Regions from separate parts of the Homo sapiens genome. Here region 1 is linked to region 2. The links come from fine-mapping of genetic effects on gene expression. A gene starts in region 2. The other region holds a variant in brackets. All regions are shown on one strand. Distances are from middle to middle. Region 1 has its middle 19 kb from the start of PDPR. Region 2 holds the start of EXOSC6 (exosome component 6).

Region 1 (5,376 bases), 160 kb before region 2:
TAAAATATATATATATAAAATATATATATATTTGTATTTGTTTATTTTTTCACTCACAGGTCAACCATGAACTATATTCTTATTTGTTATTTTTTATTTCCTGCTTTGGGCATAGAAGATGAGAAATTATACTAATTTGAGTGTTTCCACTTGGTCAGTTTAACTAGTGTTAGAGTTTTCTTAAAACTAAGATATAATTTGACTTCTCAAAGTAAAGTTTGGGGCAGAGCATCTTCTCTAGAGAGATGGATCTTTCTGTCAGGGAGTCAGGAGTTACTCAGTCTTTTTTGGGAGATGGAGGGAGGTCAACCATTAGGTCCAAAGCAGTGGTTTTGAGTAATTAGCGATTGCTGTGTGTTTTCATATTTTCAGAATAGGGATATAACCTCACTGAAGATGACATAATTAGTACTTGACAAAGCTAAAAGTCCTGTCAGTATATTTATACCTATGCGTAAGTATGCTCTCTGAGTCATTCTGCTAATTCCCACTGTAAAATACGTATACCCTTTTATTTTATTAGAATTAAAGGGCTTTGAGGAGATTTTTCATTTTAAAGGTACAAGACAAGTTTTAACGTCAACATAGCCCACTCACTGTTCTATATTTATGTGAGACCTTTTAAGAACCAGGGATAAATGGGCTCTAATTTGTCTGTGAGGGTCTTGCCCCGTCTATCTTTAAAACTTAACGTGTTCCTATAGGAGTAACTATATAATATTTGACAACTGTTATCCCACCGTCCACTTGGGAAGCACACAAGTAATAAAAGTAAATCAAATTATGACACTGTGTTTAGCATGACATCTTAATTTGAACTATGAGAAACCATTATTGGACCAATGTTGGATTTTTACTAAAGACTTGTAGTTGTCCTAGCACGTATTAGGAGATGCCAAATGAATAAGCCTAGGAGTGATTGTCATGGGGTCCCTCACTTTCTCAGCCATCGGCACAGAATGTGCCTTTTCAATGCCACCCACAGCCTAGTGCTCCACCTTTCACAGCCTACCTCTCATCTGCCTCAACCTGCACACAGCATCCTTAACCAAACCACAACCGCCTATAAGACTTAATTCAAATGTACCCTCCATGAAACTTTCTCTGACTGACTTTATTGCCATACTCATCTCATAGGGTTAGTGGTGCTTTCTTCCTTCTTTAAAATATCAAGTCCTCCTTTCCCCCTAAAAACTCCACATTCAGCCTTGTATGATGATTAGATATGCACTTGAGAGCCAGCTTCTGTATCTCATGTCTTTTTAAGAAAAAAAAAAAAAAAAAAAATCTCAAAATCTCCCGTTGGACCTGTACAGTAACTCCTTTTTGAAAAGGTAGTTGAATGTTAAAGACTTAAATAAAAGCAGCTACAACTCTTTAGTGAATCAGAACATTGTTGGAAGGCGTAAAGCCTGTGCTGATCACTGTCCTTTTGGAAAAACAATACTCAACCACTATCCCTGGGTAAAATAAGAAAAATAAATTCTGATAGAGCCAGAATAAGGCACTAAGAGGAAAGCAGTTCTAAACCTGAGGATTGAGATTGCATTTAGACTTGCTCAGGAGAGTTTCCCGGGGGTAAAAGATTGGGTTTATTTTGTTAGAGACCAGCTACATTATCTTCATTGTCACTGGGGCTTTGGACAAGGTTAATAAATGAAGTGTTCGTGTGATGGGAAGTTACTGGGTTCTTAATGAATAAACTCCCAGAAGACTTGACTTAATACTGCAGCAGAGTGTCTCCAATTGAAAGGAGGCATTAGGTTATCGCGTGACTTCAAATTTTTCTAAGGCTGTAAAAGCACTGATACTGTTGGCATCTTTTGTTTGTTTTCTCCTGAGGGATTCAAAAACAAAGTCGGTTGTCACTTAATTTAGTACCAGGTATCTTAGAAAAAGGACCCTATTCCTTTATGTGATCTGATGTAGTTCAGCTTCAGTGGAAACTGTAGAATGTTCCATATTTTAGACAACATCCAACTCCCAAGCATTTCTGTTTCAGAAACTGGGACACCTTCCAAGATAGCTTTATGAATCCTTTAATTTCTCCTGCCAGACTCATTAACTCAGCCTATTCACCTTGGGGAAATCATAGTTCCAAGACTTTCTGTAAAAACCTTCCTCCTAAGTGAATGCGGTAGTTGATTTGAGAACATTCAGACTCAAGCTTTTCAGTAGTTTATTCTGAAACCTGTTTGTTGTGACTTTGACTAGGAGAGATTAAGGTGAAACAGTAGTAACCATCATAATATACAAATTATCTACATTAAAAAAACTTGAAATTCAATAAGTACATTTTTAAATTCCACATCTCAGATTTTATGGACTCATAAAGCTGGAAAGAACCGCAACCAATGTTTGACCAGTATTTCTTAATTTTTTCTTGTCTCGTGGATCTTTTTGAGATGGTGATAGCTGTTGTGGATATTCTTCTCAGAAAAATATACATACACACAAATGCTTGCATTCAATTTCAAGACATCTCAGACTCCCAAAGCCTGTTCATGGATTCCCACTCTAGTTCAAAGCCTGTTGTTAGGGGTTTAGAGAAGTTAAGTGATGTACCTAAAGTCACACACTTCTATTGCTAACTACTATAGAAAAGTGGCAGGGTTCTTTTTTGTTTTCTGTTTTTTGTGAGGTTTTTTGTTTTGTTTTGTTTTGTTTTTTAACCATTTCCTGATACACTCATCATGTTCTTTATTGAAGTCAAGCAGGTGTCTCCAAGTACTTGGTGCTTTTCCCTTTACTGCCTTTGCTGTATCATTTATACAGCATTACCCAAGTTCCTTCTCTGTTTTAGTCACTGATGCATTGGGATGGGGATGTGCTAAATCTCTTCATTTTCTCATTCTTCCATTTATAATAGTTTACTTATTGATACTAATATATGCAATGTCAGGAATCACTTCTCTCATATTTGGTCATTAAATTAGCAGCTATTTATTATACTTTTCATGACTTTTTTTCTTACAGTTTTCCATAGTAAGAGGACAGTTTTATTTCCAATGAGTAAACACTTGATGTAAGAGATCCTTCTTTTTGAAGCCCAGACTTCTATCTCCAGAATAAGGAGTAGCTGATAATGTGACATAGCTCAGCTTCTAATTTGATGCCTCCACAGGCTAGGAGCCAGCACTTTGCCCCTGGTTTGAAGAATGCAGGTAGAGGTAGGAATCTTAATGATGATAAGAAGTTTTTTTCCTCTATCTTGGTCATGTTCTTCCTATCATTTGAAAAATCAGTAACCATTCCCCCAG[T/C]AGATACATACTCATAAAATATTAGTTACACCCATGTTATATGCATTATAAAAATACGTTAAAACATAAATTAAAGGATAAGCTTTTTTAAAAACAGAAGCTCTGTTATTTTCTTCCTGACCCCCAAGGGATCATGTAACTTCTTCCTTGAGGAATCACTCCACTCCTTTTTGGAGACCACTCTTCTAATTCTTTAGGCCTATCTCAAGTCCCTCCTCTTGCTTGTTTGATTTCGCTATTTTAACTGTATAACTGTATTGTAAACAACTTGAGATTAGAGACCAGATAGAATGTTGTCTTTGTATCCTGCAACAATGCCTAGCACAATTTTGAGTTCATCATCATTATTCAATATATACTTGTTGGCTAATTTCTTGGGATCATCTCAGAGCATTATTTCACTAATTATTACCAAAGAGGAAGAAAAAAAATCCTCAATTTTATCTTATTTTAGTAATTCTGGGTGTTATTCCTCATGCTATTCATCTTCTAGGATTAGAGACAAGTGAGCCTGTCTGCACTTAAAGTTTTGTGGAAATAGATGTACTATATCTGATGAAGTGGTTTAATTGGGACATAATGAGAATGGTGCAGTGTGAGAACCAAACCCGAATCAGCACCCGCATCTGTTTTCGTTCCTTGAGATTTCTGTTCATTGGTTCTTTATCACATGACTGAGTGCTGAAGCATAGTGTTTTCTTTTTATTTATTTATTATTTTTATTTACTATCTCGAGTTCATTTATTCTGACATTATTGATGCACCCACCATTCCCAGGGTAGTATAAAATACTCCTTTGTATTTTATATTTCGTACTCTCTCTTCTCTTCCTCTAAATCACCACTGTGTTCTTGGATTCTAAACACCCTTCTAAATTTCTGAAATTAGTTGTCACAATTATGCTTAACAATTCTTCATAGCGATTTGGTTCCACGAATCTCAAAGACCTAACATCATAACCTTGTTTTTACGGCATTCCTATTCTGTCATCTTTTCTTTCTGCGTAGAGAAACTAAACCTAGGAAAAAGCTGGGCATACTGGCTCATGCCTGCAGTCCCAGCACTTTGGGCAGGTGAGGCAGGAAGATCACTTGAGACCAGAAGTTGAGATCAGCCTAGGCAACATAGCGAGACCCGGTCTGTACAATAAAATTTTAAAAAATTAACCAGCTATCATGGCACATACCTTTAGTCTCAGCTACTAGGGAGGCTGAGGCAGGAGGATCAGTTAAGCTCAAGAGGTGGATGCTGTATTGAGCCATAATGGTGCCACTGCCCTTCAGCCTGGCAACAGAACAAGACTCTATCTCAAAACTAAATGAATGAATGAATGCAAAAATAAGACCCATTTATAGTCAGTTGCAAATCAAGATAGCAAAAGAGATGAAAAGCAAGCACTGGTGTCCAGATTTGCACTTTCGTGTCTCCATGGATTATGTCATTTCTTCATGAAAGGTACAGTAGTGCTCTGTGCTTTCCAATATAATTCACTAATTTTAGATCATAGCTGTTACAGGTTCTAATTTAAAGGCTTTGATATTTTTATTTTATTTGTTTGATAGATATATTAGTCATTTTTTCTTCATAACAGACACCCTCAAACTTTCATGGGCTTAACTTGAGGCTTGTTTTTCTTGCCCATGGGTTATTAGAGATGGCTTTGCTTCAGGCTACAGGTTGAGGGTTAAGTTCAGGTCTGCTCCACATGTCTCTTTTCTTTGTACTACCATGTTCTCATGGGGAATGGCAGGGGTGCAGGAATACAGGCCAAACTACCCAGGCACATTTAAATCCTCTGTTCATATTGTATCTTCTAAAACTCCATTGGCCTGAGCATGTCAGTGGCCTATATTATATTATGTTACATTAACAGTATTACAGGCCGGGCGCGGTGGCTCACGCCTGTAATCCCAGCACTTTGGGAGGCCGAGGCGGGCGGATCACGAGGTCAGGAGATCGAGACCATCCCGGCTAAAACGGTGAAACCCCGTCTCTACTAAAAATACAAAAAATTAGCCGGGCGTAGTGGCGGGCGCCTGTAGTCCCAGCTACTTGGGAGGCTGAGGCAGGAGAATGGCGTGAACCCGGGAGGCGGAGCTTGCAGTGAGCCGAGATC
Region 2 (5,376 bases):
TCAAGTAGCTGGGACTACAGGTGCATACCACCATGCCTGACTTATTTTTTTTCCTTTTTTTTTTTTTTTTTTTTTTTTGATAGAAACAGGGTTTCACCTTGTTGCCCAGGCTGGTCTCAAACTCCTGGACTCAGGCGATTCACCAGCCTCAGCCTCCCACAGTGCTGGGGTTACAGGAGTGAGCCACCATGCCCAGTTAAAAATACACTTTTTATTTAAAAAAAAAAGAGAACACTCCTTATATTTCCTTTATATTTTGTAAACTACATACCCAAAATAAAGCATATCAAAAACTGTAAAAAAAAAAAAAAAAAACCCTAATATCAGATATTCCAGACACAACAATACCATAATTTAATCACTTAAAATCTTACTCAAAACTAAATCAATGATCTTTTAGGCCAGGTGTGGTGGCTCATGATAGTAATCACAGTACTTTGGGAGGCCAAGGCAGGAGGATCACTTGAGGTCAGGAGTTCAAGACCAGCATGGCCAACACAATGAAAATCCATCTCTACTAAAAATACAAAAATTAGCCAGGCTAATGGCACACTCCTGTAATACCAGCTACTTAGGAGGCTGAGGCAGGAGAATCGCTTGAACCTGGGAGGCAGAGGTTGCAGTGAGCCGAGATCATGCCACTGCACTCCAGGCTGGACAACAGAGCAAGACTCCGCATCAAAAAAAAAAAAAAGATATTTTAATATATTCAGATACACAAATATGAAATAAAACTAAGTAGAGCTGGTATTCATTTACACATAATTATCTTATACCGTTTGGAATAAGAATTTGGGGCACGTTAGCAAACCAAAAGGCTCAGAAAGACGTCGTGATATTTAGTTCTTGTCTCCCTCTACAAATGTGAAGCACTCTTCTATCCGGCATTCCTAGTGGAGTTCCTATTTTCAAATTTGCAAATCATTCTGGTGCTAAGCAATCTCAAAAAAAACATTTACTAAAAACCAGAGGAAAAAAATCTTATAACTTTGGGAGGCTGAGGCAGATGGATCACTGAGATCAGGAGTTTGAGACCAGCTTGGCCAACATGATGAAACCCCATCTTCTCTAAAAATACAAAAAGTTAGCTGGGTGTGGTGGCAGGTGCCTGTAGTCCCAGCTATTCCAGAGGCTGAGGCAGGAGAATCACTTGAACCTCTGAGGCGGAGGTTGCAGTGAGCTGAGATCGCGCCATTGCACTCCAGCCTGGGCAACAGAGTGAGACTCTGTCTCAAAAAATAAATATAAAAAAATAAAAAGCTGCTATTCTCCATTAATACCTGCAGGCCCGACAAAGGCAGCCTAGGAATTCTAGATGAATGGAATGAATACAACTTGCTGGAAGTTCTTAGGAAACAAAATGACTATTCACAGAACCAAATAAAAGCCTTCCACTAGAAACTAAAAATAATAATAATAATAATAATGGTTTTATATATATGCATACACAAGCAAAGCCAGAAGAGAATAAATAGCAAATGAATGAAAACTAGAAGCAAAAACAAACAGGAAACCATCTCTACATTTTTTTTACTCAATCGACCCTGAATGCTACAGCATTATCCAGGGCCGCAGAAAACACACATAATACTTTATTCCTGATAAACAATTCGATGTCCTTAAGTCCGCCAATATCACCGTACATTCTGTGCAATCAAGAAATTTACTCAGCTGGGCACAGTGGCTCACACCTGTAATTCCAGCACTTTGGGAGGCCAAGGCGGGTGGATCACCTGAGGTCAGGCATTCGAGAACAGCCTGGCCCACATGGCGAAACCCCATCTCTACTAAAAATACAAAAATTAGCCCGGTATGGAGGCATGTGCCTGTAATCCCAGCTACTTGGGAGGCTGAGGCAGGAGAATGGATTGAACCCAGGAGGCAGAGGTTGCAGTGAGCCAAGATTGCACCATTGCACTCCAGCCTGGGCAACAGAACAAGACTCCATCAAAAAAAAAAAAAAAAAAAAAAGAAAGAAAGAAGAAAAGAAAATTAGCCAGGTGTGGTTGCATGCACCTGTAGTCCCAGCACTTTGGGAGGCCAAGGCAGGAGGATCAATCAAGGCTAGGAGTTTGAGACTGCAGAAAGAAACCCTGTCTCTAAAAAAAAGGTCCAGGTAATTTCAGGGTCCAGCTCCACCACAAGCGCAGCTCCAGGGGCTGTTGAGTTTTGCCTTTATCATTCCAAGTAGTCCCTGCTCCAGACCAAGTCCCACCATCTGGCAGTCAGGTCAGTCCAACCACAGTCATATCAGGGCCCTTCCAGGAATTCTCGACGCAAACTGGAGGCCGATGGCGCGGGTCTTTTCGTGGACGGCGGCAGCACGGTCCTCGGCTTGCGTCCGTAGTTGCTCAGGCTTCTGGTTCAGGGCTGGGCGGCGGCGCCCCTGCGGCGGGCGGCCCGCACCAGGCTCTGCTGCAGCACGGGGTAGAGGCGCTGGCAGCCCTCGAGGCCCAGGCGTACGGCCTCCGCCCAGCTCTCTGTCAGGCCGCCCTCGCCGCTGCCCAGCAGCCCGGCCACCTGATTCAGCACAGGCATGAGCGCCACGGTGAGGCCGGCGGCGGCGCGCTCTTCCTCGAGCCGCGTGGGGTCCAGGAGCCAGGTGGGCGCGGGCCCCGGCGCGAGGCTGAGGCCGCAGCCCACCACCAGGTCGTACATCTCCACGCCCGCGTCGGCCAGGGCGAGCGCGGCGGCGGTGAGCGCGGCGGCCAGGGCCGAGCCACCGTCCTCCAGCAGCAGCGCCGACACCTCGAGCTGCGCGCGCGGGTAGCGGCCCAGGCGCACAGCCGGCTCCAGCGCCTCCTGCAGCGCCAGCGCCAGCTCACGCTCCTCGCAGCCGCCCGGGGGAGCGCGGCGCCGGCGGCCCGCGAAGGGTGCGCGGCGGAAGTCGCAGAGCAGGCGACCGCGCAGCGCGGCCGGGGCCTCGCCGCCTGCTCCGGCCGGGCCGCCGCCGCGCTCGCCGCCCTCGGCCTGTCGCGGGCCCGACACGGCACACAGCACCTTGGTGCCTCCCGCCTCCAGGTAGGCCGAGCCCTTGGCCTGGCTCAGCAGCCCGGCGCGCGCGTACACGGGCCGTAGCCGCGTTGGGTCGCGGGTGCCGGGCGCCTCCTCCTCGTCGGCCGCGTACAGCTGCGGCGGCTGCGATTCTTCAGGGCCGCGGATGCGGCGGTGATCCCCAGGCATGGCGGTTCTTGGCGTGCGAACCCCTTCCGCCCAACGCCCTGCCGCATCCACTGGTTCTTCCGTTGTTTAAAGACGCGCGGCTGCGCATGGGCTGTCGAGAGAGCGGCGGGAGGCACTACAGCGCCCCTGGAGGCCCGGAGGGAGAACGGCCCGGTCCCAGTTGTGCAGGGTAGCCGGATCCATCCATCTTGCTGGAAGGGAGGGGGGAGAGCAGCTCCAAGAAAGGCTTCTCTGCTTCCAACTACCTCCACCCCTCATCTACTGAATTATGAACGCCTTGCTCCAAGTCACCCCACCTATTTGGCCTCCACCTCCACAGACGTTTGAGGCAGCCCTAGGGGCTGTTCCCAAAATTTTGGGTTCTGGGGCTGGACTAGGTGAACACCACAGCAGCCAGCAGGAGCCACAGCATTTATTCTACAGACGCCAAAGGCTGTCAAAAGAGCCAGCCCCTATTGGGAAGAGGGATAGAGATCATGCGGCATTAAGTATTGCACGTGGTCCTTTTATTCTCTGCAGCAAAAACGATTCCTACTTGCTGACGCGGAAAGCTCAGGTCTGGAGAGCCGTTATCTATAGATGCGAGCGTGACGATCAACAGCAATGCGGGGTTAGTGGTTCTAGACCGATGGCACTGACGTGGAGGGCTCAGGGCAGAAATTTAAGGGGCACTGAGACATAGGACTGCTCCCAAGTGTGTTCCAGTTACTGCTGGGTTAGGAGGGGCTCTTTAAAGGTCCCAAGATTCAAATGTTCTTGTAGCAGATGAAGAGCTCTTGGCTGGACGGATGGATCCAGTGGGAGCCTCCTCCTTCCCCACTCAGTTCTTTACATCCCCGAGGCGCAGCTGGGCGAAGGAAGTGGCCAGCTGCAGCGCCTCCTGCAGGCAGCCAACGTTCTTGCCTGTGGCCTGTGCAGACACATCCTTGCCACCACCTTTACCGTCCATCAAGCCTGACACCTGCTGCACCCACTCGCTGGCTTTTAAGCCCCGATTGGCTGCATTCTAGAAGACAGGAAGGGAAGGGGGAGTCAGCACAGAAGATGGGATTGAGGGAGGAATGCAGGGAAAGAAAGGATGGAGGAGCCATCACCCACTCCTTGCCCTGGGTGATACTGCTGGAGGCCGAGACAGACTTTACGGCTGGTACAGGGGGCGGCCATGGCCACTGCCAGGACAGGACAGAGTGGCAAAGCCAGGTATCAACCAGATGTCTTCACCAATAAGAAGGCCTGGGTAAGGGGTACTGGCAAAGGTAACCAACCGGTGGGCAGAAAGGCTGTTTCGAATGCAGGCTGTACACACACAGGCCTCAGCCAACAACCTTAAGACCTAACACTTCCCACTGGTGCGAGGTGGTGCTGACCTGGGGAACTTGACACAGGCACGTGATCTTGCCAGCCTCATTGTCCACCGTGAAGAGCATGGCAGAAGTCTGAGGGGAGTGCATCTTGAAGAGCTTCAAGGCTTCATTCAGGGCCTGTGGGGAGGACCTGGCTCAGGCCACGGTGCTGGAGCAGGGACCCTCACTAGTGTGAGCATTTGCAGCCCTCAGAAGGCCTGCCACCCACCCCTACCCCTTCCCAGAGCAGGGGCTGTGCCCAGGGCCTGTGGGGAGGACCCCAGCGCCGGGCCCTGCCCCTACCCTGGCCCAGGTATGCCTCCCACATGCAGGGAGCTGCTGCTCCTCCCAATCTCAATCCCAGACCGTGGGCCCTTAGGCAACCACTTCGCTCAGAGCCACAGAGGCCACATGTCAGCCACCAGAGAGCTGATGAGCCCTAGGGGAGGGGACCCTGGCCCCTGGGTTGCCTTGGCTGAGGCGCCGCTCTCCATCTCCAGGATGACAAGAGGCTGGTTGGGGTTGCTGTCGATGAACTGCTTCGTCTTCTCTAACACCTGCAAGAAAAAAGTCCAGAACAGCAGCTCAGACCAAAAGCCCAGGCCCCGAACCCCTGGCTGTTCTGCCAGCCTTTGCCTAGGAAACACTCTGGCCACTGGTGCTGCCAGGACTCACTCGTTTCTGGACATCGGCTTTGCTGGCTCGGTCCAAGTCATCCATGACCTTCTTTAGGGATTTGAGAGTCTCCCGCAATTCATCCTTCTGCCACTGGGGGATGACTGCAGTGGCCAGGGCCTGGAACCAATAGACGACCATCTCAATCTGGGCCACAACTTGCTGGGATGTCAGG

The links. PIP is the estimated chance that this variant, and not a neighbour inherited with it, causes the effect. A credible set is the group of variants that fine-mapping cannot tell apart.
Region 1: its variant is the best candidate, but not a certain one, in a credible set for the expression of EXOSC6 in sun-exposed skin (GTEx, PIP 0.67).

Annotation. Positions count from the first base shown.
Region 1 is chr16:70,092,221-70,097,596 of GRCh38, forward strand. No RefSeq gene overlaps it. Among named protein-coding and RNA genes, the nearest start is that of PDPR, 19 kb to the right of the region's middle. The variant T/C (reference allele first, on the strand shown) is at 3,261.
Region 2 is chr16:70,248,718-70,254,093 of GRCh38, forward strand. It overlaps EXOSC6 (exosome component 6), which reads right to left and starts at 3,223. Exons shown (of 1, transcript NM_058219.3): 1 at 1-3,223. The coding sequence starts at 3,183. The coding sequence ends at 2,365. It overlaps AARS1 (alanyl-tRNA synthetase 1), which reads right to left. Exons shown (of 21, transcript NM_001605.3): 18 at 5,202-5,321; 19 at 4,997-5,083; 20 at 4,551-4,664; 21 at 3,581-4,189. The coding sequence ends at 4,004. RefSeq lists silencers at 2,430-2,749, 2,880-2,969 and enhancers at 3,350-3,399, 3,440-3,629, 4,264-4,764.